Linked DNA regions of Homo sapiens. Each later gene encodes a partner of the first gene's protein in a complex. Each region holds a gene or a part of one and is shown in the gene's direction. Other genes may lie near its edges. The genes, in order: CNOT10, CNOT6L, CNOT11 and CNOT2.

What was found.
Region 2: CNOT10 (region 1) and CNOT6L share a complex: the UniProt entries of both Homo sapiens proteins name them as parts of the CCR4-NOT complex.
Region 3: CNOT10 (region 1) and CNOT11 share a complex: the UniProt entries of both Homo sapiens proteins name them as parts of the CCR4-NOT complex.
Region 4: CNOT10 (region 1) and CNOT2 share a complex: the UniProt entries of both Homo sapiens proteins name them as parts of the CCR4-NOT complex.

What each region holds. Positions count from the first base shown.
Region 1 is NC_000003.12:32,765,156-32,772,188, forward strand, and holds part of CNOT10 (CCR4-NOT transcription complex subunit 10), read left to right. Parts: exon of another isoform or gene 1-22; intron 23-2,850; exon of another isoform or gene 2,851-2,991; intron 2,992-4,731; coding exon 4,732-4,807; intron 4,808-7,033. UniProt on the Homo sapiens protein: Component of the CCR4-NOT complex which is one of the major cellular mRNA deadenylases and is linked to various cellular processes including bulk mRNA degradation, miRNA-mediated repression, translational repression during translational initiation and general transcription regulation.
Region 2 is NC_000004.12:77,816,337-77,823,183, reverse strand, and holds the start of CNOT6L (CCR4-NOT transcription complex subunit 6-like), read left to right. Parts: upstream 1-3,815; 5' UTR 3,816-3,841; coding exon of another isoform or gene 3,842-3,875; coding exon 3,876-3,880; exon of another isoform or gene 3,881-3,946; coding exon of another isoform or gene 3,947-3,951; intron 3,952-4,160; exon of another isoform or gene 4,161-4,210; intron 4,211-4,849; coding exon of another isoform or gene 4,850-4,932; exon of another isoform or gene 4,933-6,847. UniProt on the Homo sapiens protein: Has 3'-5' poly(A) exoribonuclease activity for synthetic poly(A) RNA substrate.
Region 3 is NC_000002.12:101,248,218-101,255,885, forward strand, and holds the start of CNOT11 (CCR4-NOT transcription complex subunit 11), read left to right. Parts: upstream 1-4,668; 5' UTR 4,669-4,747; coding exon 4,748-5,261; intron 5,262-7,668. UniProt on the Homo sapiens protein: Component of the CCR4-NOT complex which is one of the major cellular mRNA deadenylases and is linked to various cellular processes including bulk mRNA degradation, miRNA-mediated repression, translational repression during translational initiation and general transcription regulation.
Region 4 is NC_000012.12:70,337,417-70,344,449, forward strand, and holds part of CNOT2 (CCR4-NOT transcription complex subunit 2), read left to right. Parts: coding exon 1-97; intron 98-339; coding exon of another isoform or gene 340-369; exon of another isoform or gene 370-1,003; intron 1,004-1,026; coding exon 1,027-1,147; intron 1,148-1,249; coding exon 1,250-1,406; intron 1,407-4,690; coding exon 4,691-4,752; intron 4,753-4,841; coding exon 4,842-4,891; intron 4,892-6,694; coding exon of another isoform or gene 6,695-6,711; coding exon 6,712-6,812; intron 6,813-7,033. UniProt on the Homo sapiens protein: Component of the CCR4-NOT complex which is one of the major cellular mRNA deadenylases and is linked to various cellular processes including bulk mRNA degradation, miRNA-mediated repression, translational repression during translational initiation and general transcription regulation.

The sequences.
Region 1 (7,033 bases):
TAAAAATACAAAAATTAGCCAGGTTGGTGGCACGCACCTGTAGTCCCAGCTACTCGGGAGGCTGAAGCAGGAGAATCGCTTGAATCCGGGAGGCGGAGGTTGCAGTGAGCCAAGATTGTGCCACTGTACTCCAGCCTGGGCAACAGAGCGAGACTCCGTCTCAAAAAAAAAAAAAGATGTTTAAATTTCAAATCAGCAGAATAAAAAGCAACTTGGGGCCGGGCACAGTGGCTCACATCTGTAATCCCACACTCTGGGAGGCTGAGACAGGCAGATCACTTGAGTCCAGGGGTTTGAGACCAGCCTGGGCAACATAATGAGACCCTGTCTCTACTAAAAATACCAAAAATTAGCCAGGCATGGTGGTGCATTCCTGTAGTCCCAGATACTTAGGAGACAGAGGTAGGAGGATTACCTGAGCCTGGGAGGTTGAGGCTGTAGTCAGCCAAGATCATGCCACTGCACTCCAGCCTGGGCAACTGGAGTGAGACCCTGTCCCCCCAAAAAAAAAAGACAAAAGAAGTAAGTTGACAGTTTTAATTATTAAAATTCCAAAAGATGGAAAACTGTCTAAAAGATCACTTATATAAATAATAGTGCATCTGTACAGTTGAAGACAATGCAGCTATAAACTCTAGGTACTAAAATGGAAAGATGTCCAAGACATACTAAATGAAAACAGCAAGGTGTGAAACAGTTTCTGTATAACCCTGTATACATGCATAAAAGATCTCTGAAAGGACACACCAAGAAACTGCAAACATTAGTTGTTGGGGTGGCAGGACGAATACTACATGGCTGGAGCAGTAGAATGGGAGACTTTTCACTGTATACTGTTATGCTTTTAATTTTTTTTTTTTTTTTTTTGAGACGGAGTTTCGCTCTTGTTGCCCAGACTGGAGTGCAATGGCGCAATCTCGGCTCACTGCAACCTCCGCCTCCCGGGTTCAAACACTTCTCCTGCGTCAGCCTCCCAAGTAGCTGGGATTACAGGCATGTACCACCACGCCCGGCTAATTTTGTATTTTTAATAGAGACGGGGTTTCTCCATGTTGAGGCTGGTCTCGAACTCCTGGCCTCAGGTGATCCACCCGCCTCAGCCTCCCAAAGTGCTGGGATTACAGGTGTGAGCCACCGTGCCCAGGTGCTTTTAAATTTTGAATTGTGTAAATCTTTTTTCAAAATGTGAATTATAGGCCAGGCACGGTGGCTCATGCCTGTAATCCCAGCACTTTGGGAGGCCGAGGTGGGCGGATCATGAGGTCAGGAGATCAAGACCATCCTGGCTAACACGGTGAAACCCTGTCTCTACTAAAAATACAAAAAAATTAGCCAGGCGTGGTGGCATGTGCCTGTAGTCCCAGCTACTCGGGCGGCTGAGGCAGGAGAATGGCATGAACCCGGGAGGTGGAGCTTGCAGTGAGCCAAGATCGCGCCACTGCACTCCAGCCCGGGCAACAGAGCGGGACTCTGTCTCAAAAAAAAAAAAAAAAAGTGAATTATAAATCCACCTTTCAGAAAGCCAATACTAGAGAAACTCCATACACACTAAAGAAAGCTACTGGCAATATATAACTAAAATAAACCTCTGAATTCTACCACTGAAATGGTGCATCATGAAGCTTCAAGGAAGATTTTGATTGGATCTCTTTAGTAGGTCACCTGCCAATCCCTGGACCAATCATGGGCATTGAGCCATACCTGTAGTAGGGGACTGGGTACCACCATTGGCAGCCCCAGAGGAATCTCACAAAATTAGAAATAGTTCCTCAAAAGGACATTCATCCAGCAGATATCTGTTGAGCACTTACTTCTGAGCTAAGCCATGGGAATAAGACTGCACATAAGCAGACATACTACAATCTTGCCCTTGCTTGTAGACCTTTGCAGTTAGGAGACACCTTCCTAAAAAGGGAATTGCATGGTCAGAGGATATGCAGGATTTTAAGACTTCTGATATAGAAAGTTTGTATCAAATGGTACATTCTCCAGCAGCAGATGAGAAGGCCCACATCCCCACATGCTTGCCACAGCAACTAAAGTTGATATTAAACCTCTTCTCAGGAGATAGGGTGGCTTTCAGCCGGGCGCAGTGGCTCACACCTGTAATCCCAACACTTTGGGAGGCCGAGGCAGGCAGATCACCTGAGGTCAGGAGTTCGAGACCAGCCTTACCAACATGGAGAAATCCTATCTCTACTAAAAATGCAAAAAGTAGCTGGGCGTGGTAGCACATGCCTGTAACCCCAGATACTCGGGAGGCTGAGGCAGGATAATTGCTTGAACGCAGGAGGTGGAGGTTGTGGTGAGCCGAGATCGCGCCATTGCACTACAGCCTGGGCAACAAGAGCGAAACTCTGTCTCAAAAAAAAAAAAAAAAAAGCCTATGTGGCTTTCACATAGGTTCCTGCTTATGTGAGCAGCCTTGTTGTGCCTAGAAGTGATGATGCTTTACCATGTGAAAAATAACTACAAATTCTATTTAGTCAACTTAGTGGCATCTGGTCAGCATTTCTGATCCCAGATCAGAAAAGTTAAGTGACAGGCTGTCCAGGGTAACATGTTTGATATTATCTAGGCATTGAGTGTATGAGTTAAACCAGTAAGAGTTAAAATGTTTCACTCTTCTCAGTAACAAGGCTAGGGTGTTGAGCAGCCCCTCTCAAAGTGCCCCCAGACCTCAGTCACTGCAGCAAACAGAGCTTTTGATCTAAAGTTACAGTGTGTACAGTCCAGCTGAGGTTCTCGTACAGCAGGTGGCCATGGCTGCTGCCACGCTGGGAGAGACAGATGGGGTCAGGCCTGGTTTGGGGTCTGAAGGGGGTTTTGTTTTGGTCCCTTGGTTTTTAGGTTAATCCAATGGCTGGACCTTTGTTAATTGGGAGGCCCACCCTGCCTGGGAGGGAAGAACAGTGATGTGAAGAGTTGGAAAGGGCTCCGAGTAGATGTTTCCAAGGTTGCCTGCCCACCACTAACCATTCTGAACAGCCAGTAAGCAAAATGCCATTAAGTATCATAAAGATGTTGCCTTGAATTCTTGTATTTTAAAAAAAGCTTCAGACTGTGGTCATTGAAAAAAACAGTAAATAAAATGTGTTACTAGCCACTTGGATGGAAAACAGAGATTTTACTATCCACAAAATGGGCCGGGCACAGTGGCTCACATCTGTAATCCCAGCACTTTGGGAGGCCAAGGCGGGTGGATCATCTGAGGTGAGGAGTTCAAGACTAGCCTGGACAACATGATGAAACCCCGTCTATACTAAAAATACAAGAAATTAGCTGGGCGTGGTGGCAGGAGCCTGTAATCCCAGCTACTTGGGAGGCTGAGGCAGAAGAATCGCTTGAACCCAGGAGGCGGAGGTTGCAGTGAGCCTAGATCGTGCAATTGCACTCCAGCCTGGGCAACAAGAGCAAAACTCCGTCTCAAAAAAAAAAAATCCACAAAATGGTATAAAGACGATCTTGCCTATACAGCTTGCCTAGAAAGCTAGGCTTAGATATATAAAATCTCATTTTCTGAAAAGAGTTGTTATACCTCAGTGTTGTGGCGAGAGGAATAAAAGCCTCCCCACCTCATTCATGAGGAACTTCTTAGAAGCACATGCTCTGGGCAACATGCCCCGCTAGTCTGAGATTTCTCCTAATGCTGCCAGAAACCAACCTAGTACACGTTTCTGGTCTTCCCCAACATCTCCCACGTTCAAGCTGCTACCTTCAGTACCATTTCTCCCCATTTTCTACCTGTGAGATATCTACCCTGCAAGGACTAAAGCAGGCCTCCCTTACCCCAAAGCTCTGTTTGAAAGAAACTTCTTCCTTTCTCTCCATATTCACAGCACATTCACTGCCTTTCTCCCTGGCATTTACGTAACTGTGTTTGGATTATTGTTAGTTATTTGCATGCTTGTTTGTTATCAGGGGAAGTCCCTGTCTTATCTCCATACCCACCTCTGTTCAATAAGTATTTGTAGAAGTCTATTATCTGATTAGATTAAGAGAAGAGGCAGAGCTGTCTGGAAGCAATGAGCAACTAAAACTAGATGGGGAAGTACAAGTTGATAATAAGGTGAGGAATATTTTGGCTGTAGCTCAAAGAGGCCCAGACTGAGGAAATAAACCTGTAATTTCAGCACTTCTGTCCAGAGCAGTCCAGGCTTCCTTCTTCAGGACTGGATCAGAGAGAAACTGCTGGCCGATGCTATGGCTCTTACTCAGATCTAAGGGCAGCATGTTGCCTAAACTAGTAAATTATTTTATTGGACTAAATTGAAGTGTGTTTCAGTCCTTAAGAATGGAGACCTCAAACATGCTACGTGGTACGTTTTTTCTGTATTACTATAAGTTTGAATTATTATTCCTGACATTGACAACTTACAGTTTGTAATACTGAAGTGTTACTTAGGAAAACAAATGGGCATGCAGATTTTGATGTAATTGCAACTGTATGTGTCTGTTGTGAAAGCCACCAGCAGAATTGGATGGTTGACTGTAGTATCGGGGTGTCCAGTCACCCATCTCAAAACCCAGAGTATTACATGTCTAGCTTAATTGTTAGGTTTTAAGACAAAAGGAACTGAGGCTCATCAGAGCAGAACAACAGGTAGTCCCTAGGAAGTCACGTGGGAATGAGCTTGAATAAGTTTGTTACCTTGTTGGTTGGCAGATGTACTTGGAGTGTGTATCTTAAGCTTTTGTTTTTTCACGGGCATCTTTCTGTTTTGAGCAAAGGCGGCTTCAATGATCCATCCTAAAGAGGTGCCCCCTGAGGCCATCTTGCTGGCAGTCTACCTTGAACTGCAGAATGGTGAGTAATTCTCTCTGTTTAGGACTTTATCCCTTGAAAGAGCCTGAGATTTTTTGGTTGGGAGACAGGGTCTCACTGTGTTGCCCAGGCTGGAGTGCAGTGGTACCATCAGAGCTCACTGCAGCCTCCAAACTCCTAGGCTCAAGCAGCCTTCCCACCTCAGCCTTCCAGGTAGCTGGGACTACAGGTGCACGCCACTGAGCCCAACTAATTTTTTAAATTTTTTTTAGAGATGTGGTCTCGCTTTGTTGCCCAGGCTGCTCTCAAACTCATGGGCTCAAGCAGTCCTCCCATCTTACCCTCCCTAGTAGCTGGGATGACAAGCATAAGCCACCATGCTCAGCCAAGGCTGAGATTTTTTTTTTTTTTTTTTTTTTTTTTGAGACAGAGTCTTGCTCTGTAGCCCAGGCTGGAGTGCAGTGGCGCGATCTCGGCTCACTGCAAGTTCCGCCTCCCGGGTTCATGCCATTCTCCTGCCTCAGCCTCCTGAGTAGCTAGGACTACAGGCGCCCGCCACCACGCCCACCTAATTTTGTGTATTTTTAGTAGAGACAGGGTTTCACCGTGTTGGCCACGATGGTCTCGATCTCCTGACCTCATGATCTGCCCACCTCGGCCTCCCAAAGTGCTTGGATTACAGGCGTGAGCCACCGCACCCGGCAAGGCTGAGATTTTTAATGTCTGTTTTTTCTCTTCAGAGTCAGAAATTTGCCTTCCTTGAAGATAGGTGACCCATCAAATTCTTTTTTTTTTTTCTTTTTTGAGATGGAGTCTCGCTCTGTCACCCAGGCTGGAGTGCAGTGGCACTATCTCAGCTCACTGCAACCTCCGCCTCCCGGGTTCAAGGTTCAAGAGATTCTCCTGTCTCAGCCTCTCAAGTAGCTGGGATTACAGGCACCCACCAACATGCCTGGTTAATTTTTGTATTTTTAGTAGAGACCGGGTTCACCACGTTGGCCAAGCTGGTCTTGAACTTCTGACCTCAGGTGATCTGCCTGCCTCGGCCTCTTAAAGTGCTGGGATTATAGGCGTGAGCCAGAGCGACGACCCATCAAATTCTTCTACATAAAAATATAGTTAGGAGCTGGGCGCAGTGGCACATGCCTATAATCCCAGCACTTTGGGAGGCTGAGGTGGGCTGATCACCAGAGTTCAGGAGTTCAAGACCAGCCTGGGCAACATGGCAAAACCCCATCTCTACAAAAAATACAAAAATTAGCTGGGTGTGGTGGTGTGCGCCTGTAGTTCCAGCTACTGGGAAGGCTGAGATTGGAGGATCACTTGAGCCCTGGAGGTTGAGGCTGCAGTGAACTGAGATCATGCCAGAATAAGACCTTGTCTAAAAAAATAATAATAGGCCGGGCACAGTGGCTCACGCCTATAATCCCAGCACTTTGGGAGGCCGACACGGGTGGATCATTTGAGGTCAGGAGTTCGAAACCAGCCTAGCCAACATGGTAAAACCCCATCTTTACTGAAAATACAAAAATTAGCCAGGCGTGGTGGCGCATGCCTGTAATCCAGGTACTTAGGAGGCTGAAGCAGGAGAATCGCTTGAGCCTGGGAGGTGGGAGGTTGCAGTGAGCCGAGACACACCACTGCACTCCAATCTGGGCGACAGAGTGAAACCCTGTCTCAAATAATAATAATAATAAATACCTATATCTATCTAGATAGATAGATAGATAAATAGATAAATTGATAGATATAGTTAGGGAGTTTTTGGTATCCTACAAATACTCCTTACAAGTTAAGCTTATCTCCTTTTATCTGAGAAAATACAGAATCATAACTTCAGACACTTAATTATAATTAATCACTATTAATTAACCTTTCTCCTAGGCAGCTAAATGACTGAGAACATGAGTTAGAATGCAGTTGCTTTGAGTTATACACCATAGTATTTTGAACACATATTAACAAGTTTTACAGTAAGCCAGTTCTTGCTGAGAATTATTTATTCAAACATAAATTCAGGTCATGCCTCTAGGGCATATACGATCTCCAAGATGTATCTCACTAGAAGAAAGGCTGTTGGCTCTAAATATGAGATAGCATGAAGTAGAAAAGAGACATGAATGAGAGAGATTAGAAGGGACAGAAATAGGCCAGGTGCGGTGGCTCATGCATGTAATCCCAACACTTTGGGAGGCCGAGGCGGGCAGATCATGAGGTCAGGAGATCGAGACCATCCTGGCTAACATGGTGAAACCCTGTCTCTACTAA
Region 2 (6,847 bases), on another chromosome or scaffold:
TTTCCTATTGCATTATTTCTAATCTTAAAAACTGCAATAACTGACAAACGTGAAAAATCCTCAGAAATGAGATATCGAAAGCAGGTTACTCTCTGTAGCAAACTTTGATCCACTATAAAATTTCTTTTTTTTTTTTTTTTTTTTTTGAGACAGAGTCTCACTCTGTCACCCAGGCTGGAGTGCAGTGGCACAATCTTGGCACACTGCAAGCTCTGCCTCCCGGGTTCATGCAATTCTCCTGCCTCAGCCTCCCGTAAACTGCTTCTTAACAATGGCTAAAGTGCTACTCATTTGTTGTCGTTTCTGGGGTGTCTTTTGAAGCGGAATCTTATGAGGAACTATTTTTTTTTTTTGAGACAGAGTTTCCCTCTTGTTGCCCAGGCTGGAGTGCAATGGCTAGATCTCGGCTCACTGCAAACTCTGCCTCCCAGGTTCAAGTGATTCTCCTGCCTCAGGCTCCTGAGTAGCTAGGATTACAGGCGTGTGCCACCACACCCAACTGATTTTGTATTTTTAGCAGAGATGGGGTTTCACCATGTTGGTCAGGCTGGTCTCAAACTCCCGACCTCAGGTGATCCACCACCCGCCTGGGCCTCTCAAAGTGCTGGGATTACAGGCCTGAGCCACTGCGCCTGGCCTGTTTGTTTTTTAATCTCACTGAAGACAATTTCTTGGCATTTGTATAGTGCCAACTATCTGAAAACTATTATTTCTCCAATGTCATTCTAATTGCAAATGAGAAAAACAGCAATCTATTTTTTGGATAATATAGTTAACATATAAAAGTATTGCTTTCCTTTTGTTTTTAGTGAGTCAATCAATTTGATATGGTATAAAGAGGACATCTTTGAGAGTAAATTCTAAACTTAACCTGCATTAAAATAAATGATCCTATGACAACATCCACTGTCCACTATTAACTCTGAAAGTTACAATTACCCCTCCCCACCATGGATTGTGATGCATTTACTACTTAAAATTTAGAGGCCAACAAAGAACATCCCATATATAAAGTTGACCTTCAGGACCACCAAAGTCCACCATTTATTAGTGCTTCTTTAACATCCACAATGGCCCTGTCATTTTTCCCCACCTGTCACTACTGCTAGGCAGCCTGTGAGAGTGGGCAGATGTCAAATGGCTCACGTGTAAATGCCAGTGCTGTCAGCCCATCCTCCTAGACATTGTTGTGACTATTAATTTTGTGTCACCTCTCATACTTTCATTTCTGGTTTGTTCTGTGAGAATTTCCTGTTTATGTGTCAGCTTCCCCTACAATGATAGTGAGTTACTTAAGAAAAGGGACTATATATGCTTGGCTGTGTGTCTCCAATGCTAAACATAGCATCTGGAACATAATATGCCCTCCATATGTGTTTATTGTATATGAATGAAAATTCATTGAATACTCACAGAAAATTCATATAAATTTATTGTTATTTAAAGATGCTTAAATCTGTGAGGCTATCACATTATCTGATTTACATTTTTTCAGGTATTTATTTTCCTCTTTCCTTCTATAATTGGTGGTATTTCTCCCTGGGAGAGTGTTTGTGTGCTACGGAGAAATACTGTGGCAAGATGCCATTGAGGCAGGTCCACTATTTGGACTCCTGAAGTGACTTGCTTGGCTTTGCTGCTTACAAAGCCAAAGATAATTATTCATTTTATGTCAGCCTAGACTCTTAGATAGTTGGGAAAGAGTGAGACTTCTTCCAGGCTTAAGGCCATTTTGACATGTTTCACAGAAGATGGTGTGGGGCTGGTGTTGCTAGGGAGGGAAATGGAAAATTAACATAGGTAGAAAAGAAAATAGTCTGTCGTCTTGTGAACTGAGGGGCTTTTTTACTCACTCATTCACCCATCCTGGTGCCAAGATGAAAGTGGTGCAATAGTTCTGCAATTATGGACTCTTGTAACAGCTGTTCAGTTTTAGCTAAATGATGATTTGCATTTTCACCGCACCTTTTCCCCCAAGAGATGAAGGCATTTTACATTCAGTAATAAGGCCTAAGATGAATTGCAACCAACGCAACGTGCTTAGTGTGCTAAACACTCCTGTGGGGGAAAAAATACTGAACATTGCTAATATACCCTTGACCAACACTGGTAAATACACGAGCCCGGGCATGCATTGAGAAAGAGATTAAAATTGTGCAAAACTGCAACAGCAGTACTCTGCCTCCACAGCCGGTGTAATTTGCTTTTTGGACTGCTGGCCCAAAAAAGCTGAAGCTGGCCCACAAAAACAAAAACAAACCCCAGAAACTTAAAGTATCACAGCCAGGTTCACCAAGTAAACACTACTATTTCTAGTTTGCATTTGGATGTTTTCATTCTGTAGATGGCATGGATAAGCTACAAACAACAAACTAAAGTCTACAACGAGAAGGGAGAATTAGAAAATAGGACCGGGTTATCGCTGAGCGTCACAGGTTCTTTTATTTACCTTTGACGATACAACTTACAGATGCTATATGTTTTTAAAAAAAATCCACCGAATATGTCAGGAAACATTTCCTTCGGTCACTTCACCTCCCCTGGCGTCTCAGCCACCTAGACCTACGCTCTGCTTCGCTGTCAGGTCGCCTCGGGCGAGGAGGGTGCAGTAAACAGCGCCCACACAAGAACCCGGGGTGAGGCGGTTTCCCGTCTCTTCGCCAAGGCTCTGTGGATGTGGGTTTCTGAAACTCTACCACTCTTCTCAGCCCCGCTCCTCGCTCAGGCCAGGAAAAAAGAGTGAGAAAACAGCCAGAGCAAAACAGAAAACCATTAAGAAGCCCGGGCCTCCGCGCGCTCACCGCGACAAAACGCGGCGCACGGGGGGCGGGGCCAAGGCGCTGCGTAGGAGCTCCGCCCCGTCACCGCCCCGCCTCCTTCCCCTCACCCCAACCCTCCGCGCCGGGGAGTGACTGACTCCCGCCAGCCCCTCCACGTCAATCAACCCTCCTCGTTCTCGCACTCTCTGCACCTTGTTATTAATCTCAATACCGATATCGCCCGGACGCCTCTCCCCCGGCCCTCGGGGGTGTGAACGTGTGTGAGCGGGAGCGAAGGCACCGAAAGCTGGCGTCTCTGTTCAACCTCGGCCCCAGCAGCACCCGGCGCAGCGGCAACCCCCGCAGCGGCGGCAGCCCCAGCACCAGGAGGCCAAGGCCAAGGCCAGGCTCTGCGTGGCTCTCGGAGCAGTAGCCGCGGCTCCGGCCCTGCGGGGGCGCAGCTTCCTTCGGCTGGGGCCTTCGCGCCGGCGGCCGCGGCCGCGGGGCCTCTCTTGCGCGCCTGGGGTCACTGTCCTCGAAGCCCGGCGGCGCGGCCCTCGTCCCCCTTCCCGACCCCCGGTCTGTCTCCTCGCTCCCTTCAGCCGCCTTCCGCGCCGCCGCCTCTGCCGTTCGTCAGGCGGCCCGGCCCGGCCCGCCCGCCCCGCATCCCCTCCGGCCGGTGCCTCTCCCCTCCGGCGGGCTGCCTGCATGTCTTTGCTGCCCTCAGCCCCGCCGCCACCGCCGCCGCCGCCTCCCCCGCCGCCGCAGCACCAGCACCAGCCGCCCCGTCGCCGCCGCCGCCGCCGCCGCCCGGACCCCGGCGCGCTGAATGCAGGTGAGGAGGGGGCGCGGGCCCCCCGAGACCCCGGGCCCGGGTTCCCTGCGCGCCCGCCCGCGAGCCCCGGTTACGGGCCCTGTGTGCCGCCGCGGCTTCCCCTCGGGGCGGGCGGGAGCGAGGCCCGCCGTGGGTGTTTGTGTTTGCGTCTGCGTCTGCGGCCGCGGCTCTGGAGGGGAAGCATCTGTGGGGGCCTGGTGCGCGCGCGCGCGCGTGTTTGTGTGTGTGTTTCCCCTGCCGCGGGGAAATGGCTGCTGTTGCTTCTGGGCCAGAGGAAGAGAATGAGGTAGAGTGTTCTTTTGCCTCCGAGTAGGACCGAGAGTGTTGGGAAGAGGAGCGCGTCCCCGGGGAAATGAGGTGGGAGAGGGACAAATGTGCGTGTGGGTGTGCGAGTTGGGACTTTGGCGGGCGGGGAGGCGGCCCGAGGACCCACGGCGAGTGGGTGTGTGTCGGGTGACTGGAGGGGGCGGCGGGGCTGACCCGCGTCTCTTCAGAGGCGGGCGAAGGTTCCGGGGTGTGTGTGTGTGTGTGTGTGTGTGTCGGGGGTGGCCCGGGGCCGGGACCCCAGAGTGGCGTGTCCCTCCCGCTTTGTGGCTGCGGCTCCCGAGCCTCGCAGGTGAGAGCTGCTCCTAGGGGGCCGGCCGGGGAGGGCTGAGTGAGTGCGGCACACGCGCGGCAGCGGGGCTGGGAGAGCTGCTGGTCGGTGCCGCGCCGCTGATCCCGGGGCCGCCGTTCCCCGGCCGCGGCAGGAAGCGCGCCGGCCTGCAGCGCGGCCTAACTGCCTGGGCGCCCGCCCACCTCCCCGGACGCCTCCCGGGACGGCGAGCCCGCGCGAGCCCACGGCGCTGCCTCGGGCCTGGGCAGGTGAGGGTCGGAGGCGGGACTCGCCGATTGCCGTCGCCGTGGCCGCCTCCGCGTCTCCTGAGAGGCGAAGGCTTATTTTGGCGTTCCAACTGCAAGCCTTCGCCCGGCCGGCTGTGGGACCCGAGGGAGGAAAGTGAATCAGAACAGTCAGTCTTGGGAATACGCGGTGTCGTGTTCCCTTCTTTTCATCCTTCCCCTAAGGCTGTGTGGAGGGACTGAGTAAATATTTTGGATTTTTGTTGCAAATACTTTGCCGTTGGTAAGATTTTTTTTTTTTTAATTAGACAAACATTTTCTTGGAAGGGCTGAGGAAGAAAGGGAAACTGGCTTTCCTGGCCTGTGGGATTGGATGGATTTTGTGCATTTGAAATTGTTTTATCCTGCCTCCTAGGGGGAGAGGCGTGTACGCGCCGCCGAGCTGAGGAGCTGGGTGAGGAAGAGGAAGTTACTGGAGCTGTCATCCTGCTTAACTCGGTCGGCTATTGAGCTTAGACTGTTTAGGTGGATTGTGTTCAGGGAGTTTAGCTGAGCCGTTTGTACACATTGGAAGCACAGTGTTACATTTTACCGTATTGCCTCTAGTTATCTTGTCAATCAAGATAGGCTCAACAAACATGTTTTCCTCAGTCTCCAAAAACTAGATCAAGCAACCTCTGTTGTCTACTCAGTATGTGCTGCTGGAAAGCTATTTTGAGAATAGCCTAAGCAAAACCCAGTTGTAAAGATAAACCTGCTGCCAATAGGTCTACAGTACATTTCAGAACCAAATACAAATGGCATTTGGATAATTATTTGCTAATGTGCTTTTCTACTCCAACCTCATTACATTTGTATGTAGTTAGATCATTTAGCTAGAACCGTGCTGTGGATAAAAGCATAATACAGTTTCGATCCTTGTAGGCCGTACTCTGTGTCATGGCCAGAGATTGCTCTTTGCACCTGGTCTCACAAAGAAATAGTGTATGCTGTTCACGGGGAAGTGGAGGGAAGAGAAGGAGGGGCGAAGAGCTGTTCTCTATTACCACTACTGGAAAAACAATTTAACATACGTAGTTAGTGGGAAAAGGACTTGTTTTACAGACTTCAGTTAGCCTCCCAGCTGTGTGATTTTTCCTTAGCTGTTTGACCTTAGGTAACATATCTATAAGCCACAGTTTTATCAGTCACAGAGAGCTAATACCTTTATAGTAAGGTCGTTTTGAGAATAGAATGAGAAAACATATGTTTGGCATGTAGTAGATGCTTAGTTAAATTTTAGTTCTGCCTCCTGCAGCCCTGACTATGGGCATTGAAGAACCTTTGCAAACACAAATATGATTAATTATTTAGAGCAATATTAAGTAACTATAACGTAAAAAAGACAATGGAATCTTTCAGAGCCCTTCAGTATACAAAAGGTATATATATAAACTTTAATGTATATAAGAAGTTTTTTTCTAATAATAAAAATAGTCATTAAAATAGCCTAGTTATTTATAAAAATAGTCATACTTAATTTTTTTTTCATATTTTCAAATAGACCATCTCTCAGTTTCATTATTCTTTATGATTTTCGTTTTGTAGCCCTGGAAAAAAATTTTCAACCTCTATATAGCACATGTATGTTTCAATACAGTTAAACATTAAAAAGGATCAAGGAACCAAAATTTAGATAGATCCCCAAAGTTTAAATGCTACGAAAAATGCTAGCTCATGTTGACTGATTTGGTAAATAAAACTTCTTAGAATATTTCTCTGAATATAAGGTAAAATCCTCTGTCCACTTAATTTTCAATAACTTTCCATTTTTAGTATTTTCTCTGGAGTAGGAAATGTGTTCATTAAATTTTAACTGCTGTGTGGAAAAAATAATGTCATGGAGAGGTATGGAATTTAAGGTAAAGATAACAGAAAAGTTAACATAAAGATTGTTTTCTTTTTGTTTTGGGAAAAGACAGGACAGAGAATGTGGGAGTTTGATTGGTTTAAGTTTGTCATGGCCCTATTTACAAATGCCGGGTTTCCCAGTAGGGCTTACGTAATTTATTTGTATCAATAATGATAAGCTTTAAAAAATATTATTTTCTAAAATTCAAACTAAAATTTCAACACATTCAGTATAGCTTTTATGCATATTTTTATATAAAAATTTCTGTGAAGGTAAGAGTCACAGGATGGGGAGGGGGAAGCTCTCATCATTGAGGGGCTTGAATTTTTATAAATAACTAGGGGCAACTATTAGAATGCAAATTGTGATTTTCTTAAAGTGTGTGTTGTGGGAGTGTGTATTTACATTGAACAGAATCTTCTGCCATGTGGTTATATTTAAAGGAATAATTCTTACCTTAAAACTATAAATGATACTTTTTAATACCTTAGAAACAAAGAAATAGAAATGAATCTGCTCTTA
Region 3 (7,668 bases), on another chromosome or scaffold:
TGACCCACCCGCCTCGGCCTCCCGAAGTGCTGGGATTACAGGCGTGAGCCACCACTCCCGGTCTGGATCTTTAGAAAAGGACGTGATGGGGAGGGTTAGTGAAGAAGTGGGGCAACGAGAATGTAGACTGCAGTGTGGAAAGGCAGGACCAGTAGATGCTTGGAGAGCAGTTGGGGGGAAAAAAAGAATGATCATTACAATTAATAGCAGTAGCTTTGCTTCAGTTATAACTTAAGGAAAAAGGCTAAGGGGCCTATATTTTTTGCTCCAGATCCAGTGATTTAATTTTGAGAAGCAAGATCCAGTGATTGAACTCATGCAAGGGGATGACCTGGGGCCTGTGAAAAGTCAGGTTGCAGTTTCCATTGTATTCAGGAAAACCAGAAAAATAAATACAACTTTTGGAAGAAACTTTAAGTTTTCTCCCATTCACATTTAACCCTAGGGGTCTCACACTTCTGGAATTGCTTAGTGTCACGTGTGTCCATATAAACCACCTAAACAGGCTTTGTGTGAGCAACAAGGCTGTTTATTCACTTGGGTGCAAGTGGGATGAGTCCAAAAAGAGAGTCAGCGAAGGGAGATAGGAAAGGGCAGCTTTATAGGGCTTGGGTAGGCAGTGGAAAGTTACAGTTAAAGGTGGTTATCTATCGTCAGCAGAGGAGGGGGTCACAAGGTGCATGGTGGGGAGATCATAAAACTCATTGTCCAGAAGAAGAATGTCACGAGGTCAATTGATTAGTTGGGGCAGGGCAGGAGCAAGTCATAATGGTAGAATGCCATAAGGTGGATTAATTAGTTAAGGCAGGAACTGGCTGTTTCACTTCTTTTGTGGTTTTTTGGCTGCTCCAGACTTCTTGGCTCCTGCAGGCCATCTGGACGTGCAGGTCACAGGGGTTACAACGGATGAGCTTTGGCTCAGAGGCCTGACATTCCTGTCTTTTTACTTATAAAATATAAAGTTATAAGAAAAGATAAAGAAAACATAAGTTTTTACTGGGGATTATTGGGGTAGGGGTTATGTTAATCAGGGCTGCTTCTGGCATGACTTAGGGGCGACGTGGACACCTAAAGAAAGTTTAATTTTATAGTGAGTTGGTCTAGAAAGTTTTTAGGTACAATTCTGTGTGGCTAACAAGGCACCAGTTAGCATATTTTGAGCTTGAAATTGTCCTAATAAATTCTCTAAAAACAGCAAATAAGCATAATAGCGTTAAGGTAGGTGTCAGTGAGTTTCTATGCCAAGGTAGGAATAATGTTTTAGGTACCAAAGCCTTTTGTCCCCATTTTCCATCATATGAACAGGATTCCCTGTTATTTAGGCAATGATCTATTATATTACCCTTTTCCTATAGGTGTGAGTGGTGGTCCAGATGGAGAAGTTCAATAGTTCTGATTGCAGATCCTATGCAGGAGAGATAATAATCTTTGTCTCCTGGGTTAAGCTAAGGCTGGCAAAGAGACAAATGTCCCAAGCCTTCTAACAACCAGTGGCATAGTTTATGTTGTCCTGGATGCTGGTCTGGTTGCCAAATATGGGGAAGGAAATGAGGGGCTATATAGGAGGCAAGCCAGAGGCTTATATCCTACGTGGTAATGGTCATGAAGGGAAAAGAAAAAAGAAGCAAAAAGCAGCCCAAGAAATCACTTATTTTCTAACAAAGAGCAGCCTGAAAGATCGAGCTGCAGACATAAATAAGGAAGCTGGAAGCTTGCACAGGGTGATGCCAGCAGCCACACAGACACAGCAACCTGGGGCCATGCGTGTCCACCATGGGGGCTCCACCTTCCCTTTTTTGTTAGCATGTACACAGTAGGAAAGAGATCAGTCACAAGAATAGCTACCTGCCTGCATAATAAAAGACTGGGGTGGGGGCTGCCAGAGATTCACACTCTATGCAGATGGCACACCTAGTCCTAACCGGTTTTCTTTTTGAGACAGAGTCTCTATCACCCAGGCTGGAGTGCAGCAGCACGATCTCGGCTCACTGCAACCTCTGCCTCCAGGGTTTAAATGATTCTCCTGTCTCAGCCTCCCAATTACCTGTGATTACAGGTGCCCACCACCACGCCTGGCTAATTTTTTTGTATTTTTAGTACAGACGGGTTTTCTCCATGTTGGTTAGGCTGGTCTTGAACTCCCGACCTCGATGATCCACCCGCCTCGGCTTCCCATGTTTTTTATTTTTTTTTTAAGATAAAATAAAATGTTCAAATATTTTTGAAACATCTTGGAAAAAACCCACACAGCATTAGTATTACTACATTAATAACTGGCAATTGGTATAATTACTACTATTAAATAGTATTAGAACTGCAGGAAAATTACAATAACAAATAGACCCATAGACCACCCAATGTAAAATGGCTTGCACAAAATACAGTTTATTATAATAACAAAAATTTTTTTTTGAGACAGTCTCACTCTGTCGCCCAGGCTGGAGTGCAGTGGTGAGATCTCGGCTCACTGCAACCTCCACCTCCCAGGTTCAAGCCATTCTTCTGCCTCATCCTCCCAAGTAGCTGGGATTACAGGCATGAGCCGCCATGCTCGGCCAATTTTTATATTTTTAGTAGATTCGGGGTTTCACCACGGCCAGGCTGGTCTCAAACTCCTGGCCTCAAGTGATCCACCTGCCTCGGTCTCCTAAAGTGCTGGGATTACAGGCATAAGCCACCTTGCCCAGGCCCTATAATAAAAAATTTATGAGAGTACTTTTGAGCTAATTTGAATCAGTTCCCCAAGTTACCACATTATATCTGCTGCTGTTAGGAACGTTAATTGGCAGGATCTTTCTGAAGTGCAATTTAGCAGTAAATTGAAGAAGCCTTTAAAATTCAGTAGATATCACACCTGTTGACCCAGCAATTTCTCTTCCTTAAATTTTTCATAAGAATTGAGGTAGCAAACCAAATATTACACTTCTAAGTGGGAGCTAAGTTATGAGGATGCAAAGACATAAGAATGATATAATGGACTTTGAGGACTCTGGGGTGGGAGGGGGTATACGTGGGACAGGGCTGAGGGATAAAAGACTATATTTTGGGTACTGTCACGCGCGTCCGTGTGGAGACCACCAAACAGGCTCTGTGTGAGCAATAAAGCTTTTTAATCACCTGGGTGCAGGCGGGCTGAGTCTGAAAAGAGTCAGGGAAGTGAGAGAGGGGTGGGGCCATCTTATAGGATTTGGGTGGGTAGTGGAAAATTACAGTCAAAGGGGGTTGTTCTCTGGCAGGCCGGGGCGGGGGTCATAAGGTGCTCAGCGGGGGAGCTTCTGAGCCAGGAGAAGGGATTTCACAAGGTAATGTCATCAGTTAAGGCAGGAACCAGCCATTTGCACTTCTTTTGTGATTCTTCAGTTACTTCAGGCCATGTGGATGTATATGTGCAGGCTTGGGCTCAGAGGCCTGACAGGTACAGCGTACACTGCTCTGGTGACGGGTGCACCAAAGTCTCAGAAATCACCACTAAAAACTTATCCATGTAACCAAAAACCACCTGTACCCCCAAAACTACTGAAATACAAGTTTTAAAAAGATGAAAAAAATTTTTTTTACATAAAATATCTTTCTCCCCAAAAACACATAAAATAAAATAAAAATATGTTTTAAAAAAGAATTGAGGTGGCTCTTAACTAGATAATTAGAATCGCTGGTGGTAATCACTGGCGAAATACGCGTACGTTTCTGTAGGTTTAGGGACCGGGCAAGTCTGGGAAATGCCACCTGGTGGTTCTCAGCCCAGACTACACCTCAGACTCACCTGAAGAGGTGGGGTTTATTAATATCTCAATCAGCATCTCTGGGGGTGGAACTAGGTATTTGTAACGTCTCCCCGTGGGTTTCTAATGCACAGCTAAGTGCCCAGGATAAGTGCCCTAGGGCAATCTAAGTAAAACGTGGCACAGCAAACAATTTTGTAAATGAATATTAACTGGAGACATGTTCTCGAAATCATGTTAAGAGAAAAAACCATGTACAAAAAAGCTCATAGTGCAGTATGATTCCATTTCTGCAATGAGTGTAAGACTAGAAATTAACCGTGGTTATGTGAAATGTGTGGTATATTTGCATTTACTAAATTAAAAAAAATGTTTCTGAGACAGAGCGCCCGGGCTGCAATGCAGTGGTGATCACAGCTCACTGCAGCCTGGGACTCCCGGGCTCAAGCGACCCTCCCGCCTAGGACTCTCAAAGTGCTGGGATTACAGGCACGCGCCACCACGCCCGGCCTGCATTTACAATACTTTTTACGACGAATACTTACGGATGTTATATTAAGAAAATAGTTAACATCTGAGGTGCATTCTTCCAAATAATAACGTAGACAGCACTTACTGGGACCGTCTGGCACCAGGAACCGTCCTGGGGACCGCCAAAGGGCGGCTTAACCTCGCAGCTGCGCAGACGCATGCAGTCCCCGGGCTCTCCTGCCGCGGGACCTCGGCAGACCTAACCCTGAACGCCACCAGCCCGACCTCGCCCCGCCCCTCCCCTCCCTTCCCGGGCCCCGCCCCCGCTTCCTGCCAATTCGCCCCGCCTACCCCGCGTCTCCGCATCCTCTTCCTGGCTTCGCTCCATCAGCCTCGCTTTCGCTGGGCGCTGTCCCTCTCCGCGGCGGTCTGGTTTCCCCGACGTGTTTTGTTTGCGACGCTGTCGTGTAACAGCGCGCTTTACGGCCGCGGGGACGGAGCGAGCCGGCGCCAGGGCCCCTCGGGCCGGGAAGAGGGGAAGGGGAGCGAGGTTGATGCCCGGCGGAGGGGCGAGCGCGGCGTCTGGCCGGCTTCTCACCGCCGCGGAGCAAAGAGGGTCCCGGGAAGCGGCAGGGTCGGCGTCCAGGAGCGGCTTCGGGGGCTCCGGCGGCGGCAGAGGCGGAGCAAGCGGCCCCGGGTCCGGGAGCGGAGGCCCGGGGGGCCCCGCGGGCAGGATGAGCTTGACCCCGAAGGAGCTCTCGAGCCTGCTGAGCATCATATCGGAGGAGGCGGGCGGCGGCAGCACCTTCGAGGGCCTGTCCACCGCCTTCCACCACTACTTCAGCAAGGCCGACCACTTCCGCCTGGGCTCGGTGCTCGTCATGCTGCTCCAGCAGCCCGACCTGCTGCCTAGCGCGGCGCAGCGCCTCACGGCGCTCTACCTGCTCTGGGAGATGTACCGCACCGAGCCGCTGGCCGCCAACCCCTTCGCCGCCAGCTTCGCGCACCTGCTCAACCCCGCGCCGCCCGCCCGCGGCGGCCAGGAACCCGACCGCCCTCCGCTCTCAGGTACCTCCTGAAGCCAGCTGTGCCGTGTGGATAGCGTTAGATTCCGCAGCTTTCCACCTGCGCTGCTGGGAACTCACCTGAAAGGGAAATTAACTATCCCTGTGAAATGATCATCCTCTTTTTCCGCCTCTCTCTGCGTTCCCACGCCCCTCACTCCTCCCCGCCTTAACTCTAAAGAATGGAGAGGTGGTAGCTTAATTGCAAGTTCGTGACACCGAAAATGATTTCTCTATACACCCCATCACATCATACAGCTCAGTGTAGGTCTTGACATGTTTAGTGTCTCAAATACGGTTCGTTCTTCGAAAACCCGTCTGTGGTGTGTGAAGTTAAAACCAATGATAAGACTGGATCTGTCCCCGGTTTTTAGTCTCAAAGGAGTACGTGGAAGTCAGTATTAAGAAGCTGAAGAAGTTGGTGGGCGGAAATACACATGAAACACCTTAAAGACTTTGCAGCCGCCTTTCTTAGCCTGTTAGGGATGGGGGCAGAGGATAGAAAGTCTCAAATTGATGATCTCGCGTTTGGAAACACATGACTTACTGGACATTATGTAAAGTGCATACGTGGTATACATTATGTAAAATGTATTTACTATTGTGTGGCATTGGTGAGATCAAACTAGTAGGTTAGATGCGAGGCTGCATTTTTTTTTGTTTTTAAGCTCAAGCAGGTGATGCTTTATGTGGATTTGCTTTGCGAGAAGACTTGCAGTCAGAAAACAAGAAAAATGGCATGTTGACAACGGGACCTGAAGGATTTAGGAACCAGTGTAGTGGAGGAAGCACACAGAGATAGGAAACAGCTTGATCTTACATTCCTTAACCAGTATAGGTAGGGCCTGCTATACAGTGAGTCAAGGCTAGGCAGTAGATTTTGAAGTAACACCAGGAGTTTGTTTTTATGGTACAGGAGGGCCGCGTTTCTAGTTAGTGTTCCTGCCGGGCATCCCATCAGGATCTTCTGATAGGTGTCCTGTAGTGCCCTTATCTAAGAAGGGCAACCCTTTGTATTGGCCTGAGATGCCTTTAGGGTACAGGTACTTAACCTGCTTCTAAGAAGCTTGTGACTGCCCAGAAAGTGAATGTAACACAGGTTTGTGGTCAAAACTCACCACCTAGGCCTGGCTAGGTGGCTCACGCCTATAATCCCAGCACTTTTGGAGGCCGAAGTGGTGGAGGTTGGGGGGTGGGAATTGCTTGAGGCCAGGAGTTTGAAACCATCCTGGGCAACATAGTAAGATCCTGTCTTTACAAAGCAATAAAAAATTTGCTGGGCATGGGGTGGCTAACACCTGTAGCCCCAGCTGCTCAGGAGTTTGAGGCAGGAGGATCACTTGAGCCTAGGAGTTTGAGGCTGCAGTGAGTTAGGGTGACAGCTTCTAAACACACACACACACACAGACAACCACCACCCTAGGGTGCTTGTATTAGAGGATTGGGACACTGGGATTTAGATCAGAGGGCCCTTTGAATTCTGAAGAACAAGTGAGGCAAAGAAACCGTGACTTATATAATGTCATTCTCATGTACAGTGAATCTAAACCCACACCTAGTCCGTAGACCGCATTATACACACAGATTTGCCATAGGTGGGATGGCAGTCACCAGAGAAGGAATCCATGGATGGATTATATTTAACCATTTTGTGCCTCAGATTCCTCATCTGTAAAATGCAAATAGTAACAATTCCCAGCTGGTAGAGTTGTTACAAAGAATAAAAGTACCTGTGAGTGGGCTGGGCGCGGTGGCTCACGCCTGTAATCCCAGCACTTTGGGAGGCCGAGGCGGGCGGATCACAAGGTCAGGAGATCGAGACCATCTTGGCTAACACGGTGAAACCCCGTCTCTACTAAAAATACAAAAAATTAGCCGGGCGCGGTGGCGGGCGCCTGTAGTCCCAGCTACTTGGGAGGCTGAGGCAGGAGAATGGCGTGAACCTGGGAGGCGGAGCTTGCAGTGAGCCAAGATTGTGCCACTGCAATCCGGCCTGGGCTAAAGAGCGGGACTCCGTCTCAAAAAAAAAAAAAGTACCTGTGAGTGTTACCCACTATTATACCATTATTAAAGTAGGTAGGGATGGTGTGTAGATAACATAGAAGAGAAAATATCAGTGCCTACACTCCACTCCCAGAGCTGCTGATATTGTATGTTTAGGGTAAGACATTTAGTGGGTATGTCTTCAGAATGCTTTTCAGATGACTCTGAACAGAGGCAGGGCTGCGATTGTGTAATGCTGGGTAGTTAAGAGGAAGGAACGACCACCTGTGGAGCTGGAGAAATTCTCAGGAGTGATATTTTTTGCTGGATATTGATTAGGGATGCAGGAGGGAGGGCAGGAGTAGCTCTGCCAGGTATTATTAAAAAACTGGGTGTAAGGCCGGGTGTGGTAGCTCATGCCTGCAATC
Region 4 (7,033 bases), on another chromosome or scaffold:
ACAATCCCAGGACTTCTCAATACACAATGAAGATTTTCCAGCATTACCAGGCTCCAGCTATAAAGATCCAACATCAAGTAATGATGACAGTAAATCTGTAAGTAACTGAGAAGTGTGTATGTGAGTGATGTAGTTTTTCCCTTCAGATTTCTCTTATATTAACAATTACTTACTAAATACTATTACAAAACTGTTTTATCTTGATATCTGTAATAACCTAACTTCTGAAGAATGTGGAAAAGCTTTATAACTTAGAAGATAGCCTATTTTTTTCCTATTTCATATAGGTTTGCAAATTTCTGTTGAACTTCTCAGAGTTAATTTAGACTTTTATTGTAGTCCCTGTCAGCTGGATCCCATGAAGTTTGATAATATAGCCTTCTAAGGAGCTGTGTTTTTCTTGAGTAAGTTTTCTCCTTGAAGAATTTATACACATTTTTATACCTGTGTTGATTCAACCAACTCAGCTTCTTCTTTCTGACTTAACAAATATGTTTATTTCTTCCACATTTCACTGAAAATAGCTTTTCTCTGTGTGTGATGGGAGTTTATATATTATTAAAATAATTGATAAAGAAGATCGGTAAGAATTAAAATAAGTACAAAGTTTTAAAGCTTGTATGTCTAACTTATCTTCAAGGTAGCTTTGGTGATTTTAGGTAATATACTATATTTAGTTTCTCTTTTACATGAAAGCATTGAGGAGTGTAACTTCAAGTGTATCCCAAAGCATAAAGACCTGAGAAAGAGATAGATTTTTTTTTTTCTGTGACTGAAGATCTGAGATAAATAAGATATTTTCCCTTGATTTCTTTTTCTTTAAATACTCAAATGTGGATGATATAGGATTTATTTGTATACCATGGAACAATGATGGAAACAATTTTCTATAGAACTTGAAAAACAGGTAATAATTTAACTACCAATTTAAATGTAATAAAGAATAAATAGCAAGGTATTAATATGTGAACTTGAATTTGTATACTTAACAAATTTTAATGTCACATTTAATTTTTTTCATGCTAGAATTTGAATACATCTGGCAAGACAACTTCAAGTACAGATGGACCCAAATTCCCTGGAGATAAAAGTTCAACAACACAAAATAATAACCAGCAGAAAAAAGGGATCCAGGTGTTACCTGATGGTGGGACTCTAGAAATCTATGTCAAAGATATTATAGAATGCTTTTTTTTCTATTTTTTAACTTTTTCTTGAAAATAAAAGCAACTGTGTTTTTCCTACCCAGGTCGGGTTACTAACATTCCTCAAGGGATGGTGACGGACCAATTTGGAATGATTGGCCTGTTAACATTTATCAGGGCAGCAGAGACAGACCCAGGAATGGTACATCTTGCATTAGGAAGTGACTTAACAACATTAGGCCTCAATCTGAACTCTCCTGAGTAAGTTTTTTCTGTTTTTCCATGTCTGTATATAATACCTCTTCAGACTTCCAGTTTTTAATATCATGTCATCAAATTATCTCACCTACTGCTACTCATTGTTAACCTGCTGATTCTCTGGGTCATTCCCATTCATGTTAGCTCTTAGATCACTGTCACTCTGCAGTATTCCTTTTATAATTTGGCATTTTATGTGTGTGTGTGTGTGTGTGTGTGTGTGTGTGTGTGCATGTGCATGTATATATGTGTGTGTGTATATATATATATATACACACACACACACACACACACCTTCCAGAATCCTGAAATCTCAGCTCCTTGAATTTCTTTCCTCCAGGAATTTTTGTCCTGTAGTATACTTCAGCCACTCCTTTAGTTATCCCTTTGACCTAGTCATTGTTCGTAACTGCAGTCTCTCAATTTTAAAATCTGAGCTCGCATGCTTTCCGACTTCCACTTTCTATTTTCTATTTCTCTTCTTCTAGTACTGTGATTCCTGTAATCATTTCACTCCATTGGGACCTTCAATCTATTGATTCTTCGGTATTTTAACTGTTCTTCCAGATCCCCGTCTCTTTTCCCCTGTGATCAACTCCCTTCTTACCCATGAAATTCTGTGGTCAGTCATAATTGTTCATTTACATATCCCATGACTACTTGCCATTTTCTCATGTTGTTATACTTGCATGGCCAAAGCTACAGTACTGATTGTTTCTGCCTATTTCATTCCTGACCTGTGCTACTGAGCTCTGCTAGAGAAAAACACATGATATCACTGCCTGGTCTTCCTTTATTTTCATGCCCAGGAGCCTCAAAAGTAGGCTCTTAATTCTACCAGTGATAATTATACCTTGCATGCTTAGTCCATTTACTCTTTTGCTCTCTTATGCAACTATCGTACACTTCTGCATGCCCCTAATACCTTTTCTCCTTATTCTTACTATCAAATGATGATCTTGCTTTTCACTTTTACTGTACTAAGAAAGATGGAAGCAATTAGAAGAGCACATTTAGCACAGTCTAGCCAACAAATCTGACTACCTACAGCCACCTACACCTATGTTATTCTTGTTTTCCACCCTATTACCATAATTGACCCATGCGTTCTACTTACAACACATTTTCACACTTTGTTGGGTCATTTTCATCAACATAGAAATACATTGTTACTTCTCTCATCTTAGAAGAAAATCTTCCTTTGATCCAACCTCCTCCGTAAGTTACTTTCCCATTTCTTTATTTCCCTTTGAAGCGAAACTTTTCAAAGAGTCATCTCCATTTCTCCGACTTGGTCTTCTCCCATTCTCTGGTAAGCCCATTTCAGTCAGGATTTTGTCCCTGCCACTTCACTAAAGCTGCTTTTATCAAGGTCACCAAATGACCTTCATGTTATTAAATTCAGTGGTCACTTGGAGGAACTCTTGCTCCTTGATACACATTCTTGTACTTGAATTTGAGAGCACCATTTTTACCTCATCTTCACTGGTTGGTCTTTTTCAGTTTCCTTTGCTGGTACCTCCTCCTTTTCTTCTTGACCTCAGTGTCATTCCTCTTCTCTGCATTTACATCCTTGATGATCTTTTTCTAGTCTTATTGTTTTAAATACCATATATATTGAGGAATCCCAAACATATGTTTCCATTCCACACTTCTGAGTTTGAGATTTCTACATTCAATTGCCAATTAAATATTTCTTGAATGATCACCCCCCAACTTATTCTGTCTACAGCCTTTCCAATCTCAGTTAGTGGTAACTCTGTACTTCCAGAAACTTGGCATTATTCTTAACTCCTCTTTCTTTTATACCCCATAATCAGGCTTTTCCCAAAATATATACAGAATCTAACCAAAGCTCACTACTTTTAACTGCTACCACCCTTGTTTGAATCATTCTCTCTTGCCTGAATACTCCATTAGCCAGTCACTGGGGGTCCCTGATTGTCCTTATACCCCTTCCCGTACAATCTCTTCATATAACAGCCAAGACAATCCTTTTTTAATACATTACTCCTCTGCTCAACACCCAGTAAATGTTTGTGGTTTCATTATGATTAAAAACCCCAAATCTTTTTTTTTTTTTTTTTTTTTTTGAGACAGAGTATTGCTCTTGTCGCCCAGGCTGGAGTGCAGTGATGCAATCTCGGGTCATTACAACCTCCACCTCCCAGGTCCAAGCGATTCTCCTGAGTAGCTGGGATTGCAGGCATGTGCCACCATGCCCAGCTAATTTTTGTATTTTTAGTAGAGACGGGATTTCACCATGTTGGCCAGGCTGGTCTCTTAACTCCTCACTTTTCAAGTGGTCTGCCCACCTTGGCCTTCCAGAGTATTGGAATTATAGGTGTGAGCCACCGCGCTTGACCAGAAACCCCAAATCTTCACAGGCCTGCAAGGTCTTACATGATTATTGTTTGTCCCCTAACCCCACCTCAACAGCTTTTCCCTTTGTTCACTGTATTCCAGCTTCACTGGCCACCTTGTTATATCTCAGGCATGTCAGTCATGTCCCTGCCTTAGTTGCTCTAGGAGTTCCCTCAGACTAGAAGAGTCTTCTGCCAGATAATTAATATGACTATGTCCCTTATAGCCTTCAAATCTTCAGATCTGACCACCTTAATGAAACCTAACTGACCACCCTATTTAATAATTATGCATCCAGTCTCCCCTCCCAGTTCCCCTCTAACATGGGCCATTGTTTATTTATTTATTCTGTTAATTGATTTTGTCTGTCCCCCTCCAATCCACCATCCTCAACCAGAAAGTAAGTTTCATGTTGTCAGTGATCTTGTTTTGCTCACTGATGTGTCGTAAGCTCCTAGAACAGTGCCAGGCATATAATAGGCACTCAGTAAATATTTGATGAATTTAAACTTTTGCAAATAGTTACTCAGTTTTCTTCTTGCCACACAAATAAATGGGAAATTTATTTAAAATTTATTTAAAATTTAATTTATATTGGGAGCATGGTATTGAAGAATTTAAAGCATCTTGAGTTGAAATCAAGTAAAAGTAGAAAATTTTTAATCATGTTTTGTATATTGTGATATGTTGTGTTATTTATACTGTATTGCAAGAATACTGAGGGAAGGAGTCCTATCATATTTTACAGACACACACACAAACACACACAGTCTTCATTTGCTTCTGTATAAGTCAGTAAACCCAAGTAAGGGAATTAGAAGTAAAGATGGTCATTTTACAGTTGGAGTCTTTGTTTTTCCTGAAATAAAATTAGAAATCTCTTTTTCTGGATTTCAAAATGTTTTCTTTTCCTCCTTATTCAGAAATCTCTACCCCAAATTTGCGTCACCCTGGGCATCTTCACCTTGTCGACCTCAAGACATAGGTAGGAGAATCTATTTGTGTTTAGACCTTTTAAAAAGAAATTTACAATTGAGAATCAGTTAATAAGGCTTTTTTCATTTTATTATCCAGACTTCCATGTTCCATCTGAGTACTTAACGAACATTCACATTAGGGATAAGGTGAGTGTAGTTTATTATTCTACTCAGTCAGCATGAATTTATCTATTTTTCACATGTTTTTCAGTTCAGGCAGCATACTATTTTTGAAATAATTAGTAATGGTCTCAGGGATATGCTTTCATATGTCCATGTTAACTTGTTAAATGGTAAATGTTAGGACTGGTAAAAAATAAAAATTCTTACATTTAACAACAGGTTACAACCATAACCGCAGTTGATGAGAATAAACTAGATTGGAACATTTGATAAATATCCTTCTGATAATCTTATTTTATGACCTTACCAGTAAAAAGATTTTCGTTACAAGTATTACAGATACAGTGTTTTTAATGAGATGGTCTGTATCTTTAAAAACTATTTATGACCTTTGACTTTTCTCTGTATTTTTTCATTTCCATTTTTTTAAATCACCTAAAATTCTAATTCTAAAGTAGTTATTAACAACAGATTACAGCTTAATCTCTCTTTTTTCAATCTAAGAAAGAAAATGGTGGCACTTTTTGCTTTAGAAGAACTGAGAGTTTGTTTCTATTACCAAAAAATATTCACAATGGTACCTAAATTTTAGCCTTGGGAAACTACAATTTAGTGAAAAAATATATTTTTGTTATATATTTGTGTATAAATATCTATGTGTATGTGTATATATACAACAGCATTCTGAGTGTGCCTTACAGTTCTGTGGTCAAGTGGATGTTGATGTGGACAGGCAAGTAAAGGGATACCTTTCTCAATGTCTTCTAATACTTGAGTAGATAAAAGGCAAGAAATACAAGATGGAGAGGTCTCCTATTTTCTATTTGCGGATTGTGTGATTTGCTCCCACCACCACTGTAGAGCTCTTTCGCTCCAATTACCAAAGTGTTCCAGAACCTTTTCTTATTACCAATTTGAGAAATACTAATTTAGGAGAATTTGTCACATTGGGGCTGCTGCCTGAATAGGGATAACATGAATGGAGAGAAAAATTACATTCAGAGAATGTGTAATAACCAAATAAGTATTTCGATATAGGATCAAATAACGAGATAAAAATGTTGTTTTGGGACACTTTTAAGGTTTATTTAAATGTGAAAATTTGAGACTATTGAACCTATGTTTTACAGTTTGGTAAGCAGTTATGTTTCTACCTTGGGGAGAGAAATGTAAAGCAATCATCTTTCAGACATCTATTTAAACAAACTGAAAAGCCATTTCTTTATGATTTTTGTATTCATCATCTGTGATTTGCTGAAAGCATACAACTGACTTGTGAATCATTCACTGTCAGATATAGATTCAGTTTAACATTTTTTATAAGCCGTCTATATATTTGGCACTCTACAAGGTGCTTTCATATACCTTCACTCATTTTATTTACTTTCTTAGTAACCCTCATAGGTGTCATTGTCCACATTTGACAAGTAAAGCTAAGAGATTTTAAATAACTAGGACACAGTCATATTAATGAGTAATAAAACCAGGACTTGAATACAAGTCCTAGATCTCTGAGCACAATGCTATTGTTAGGTTCTTTTCCCCATTGGGTATTAAATCCTTTTAGTGGATCTTGCTTGGAAGTCTTTATTGAGCTTTTCTTCCAGTCAGCATATCAATTAGATGTATCAGAAATAATTGTTTAAATGACTTCAGTCATTTAAATGAGGAAATTCCCTTTTAGAATCTTAACTACCTATCTGTGTAATCATGTAATAACAGTTATCTACTACAAAGTGGGGAGTTTCTGTTTATCTCTCCATTTTTTCTTTAGTAGTAGCAACTATATATTAGGATTTGCAGATTTGTTTTATATTTCAGAATAAGTTATTTTTCTTTTTCAGCTGGCTGCAATAAAACTTGGCCGATATGGTGAAGACCTTCTCTTCTATCTCTATTACATGAATGGAGGAGACGTATTACAACTTTTAGCTGCAGTGGAGCTGTATGTTCAAAGTATTTTAATCACTTTTGTATTATAGTGGATCTTGACTATGCTGAAAACATCTTTAAGTGATGATGGCTATCTTTAAATGGAACTATTTCTCCATCAAGAAATTTATTTTTACATTATTAAAGTGAATTTAATTTAGATTAAAACCGTATCTTAACCATGGCTTCATAATCTATATACCTAAAAAGAATTTCAAACTTAATGCTGAAGCT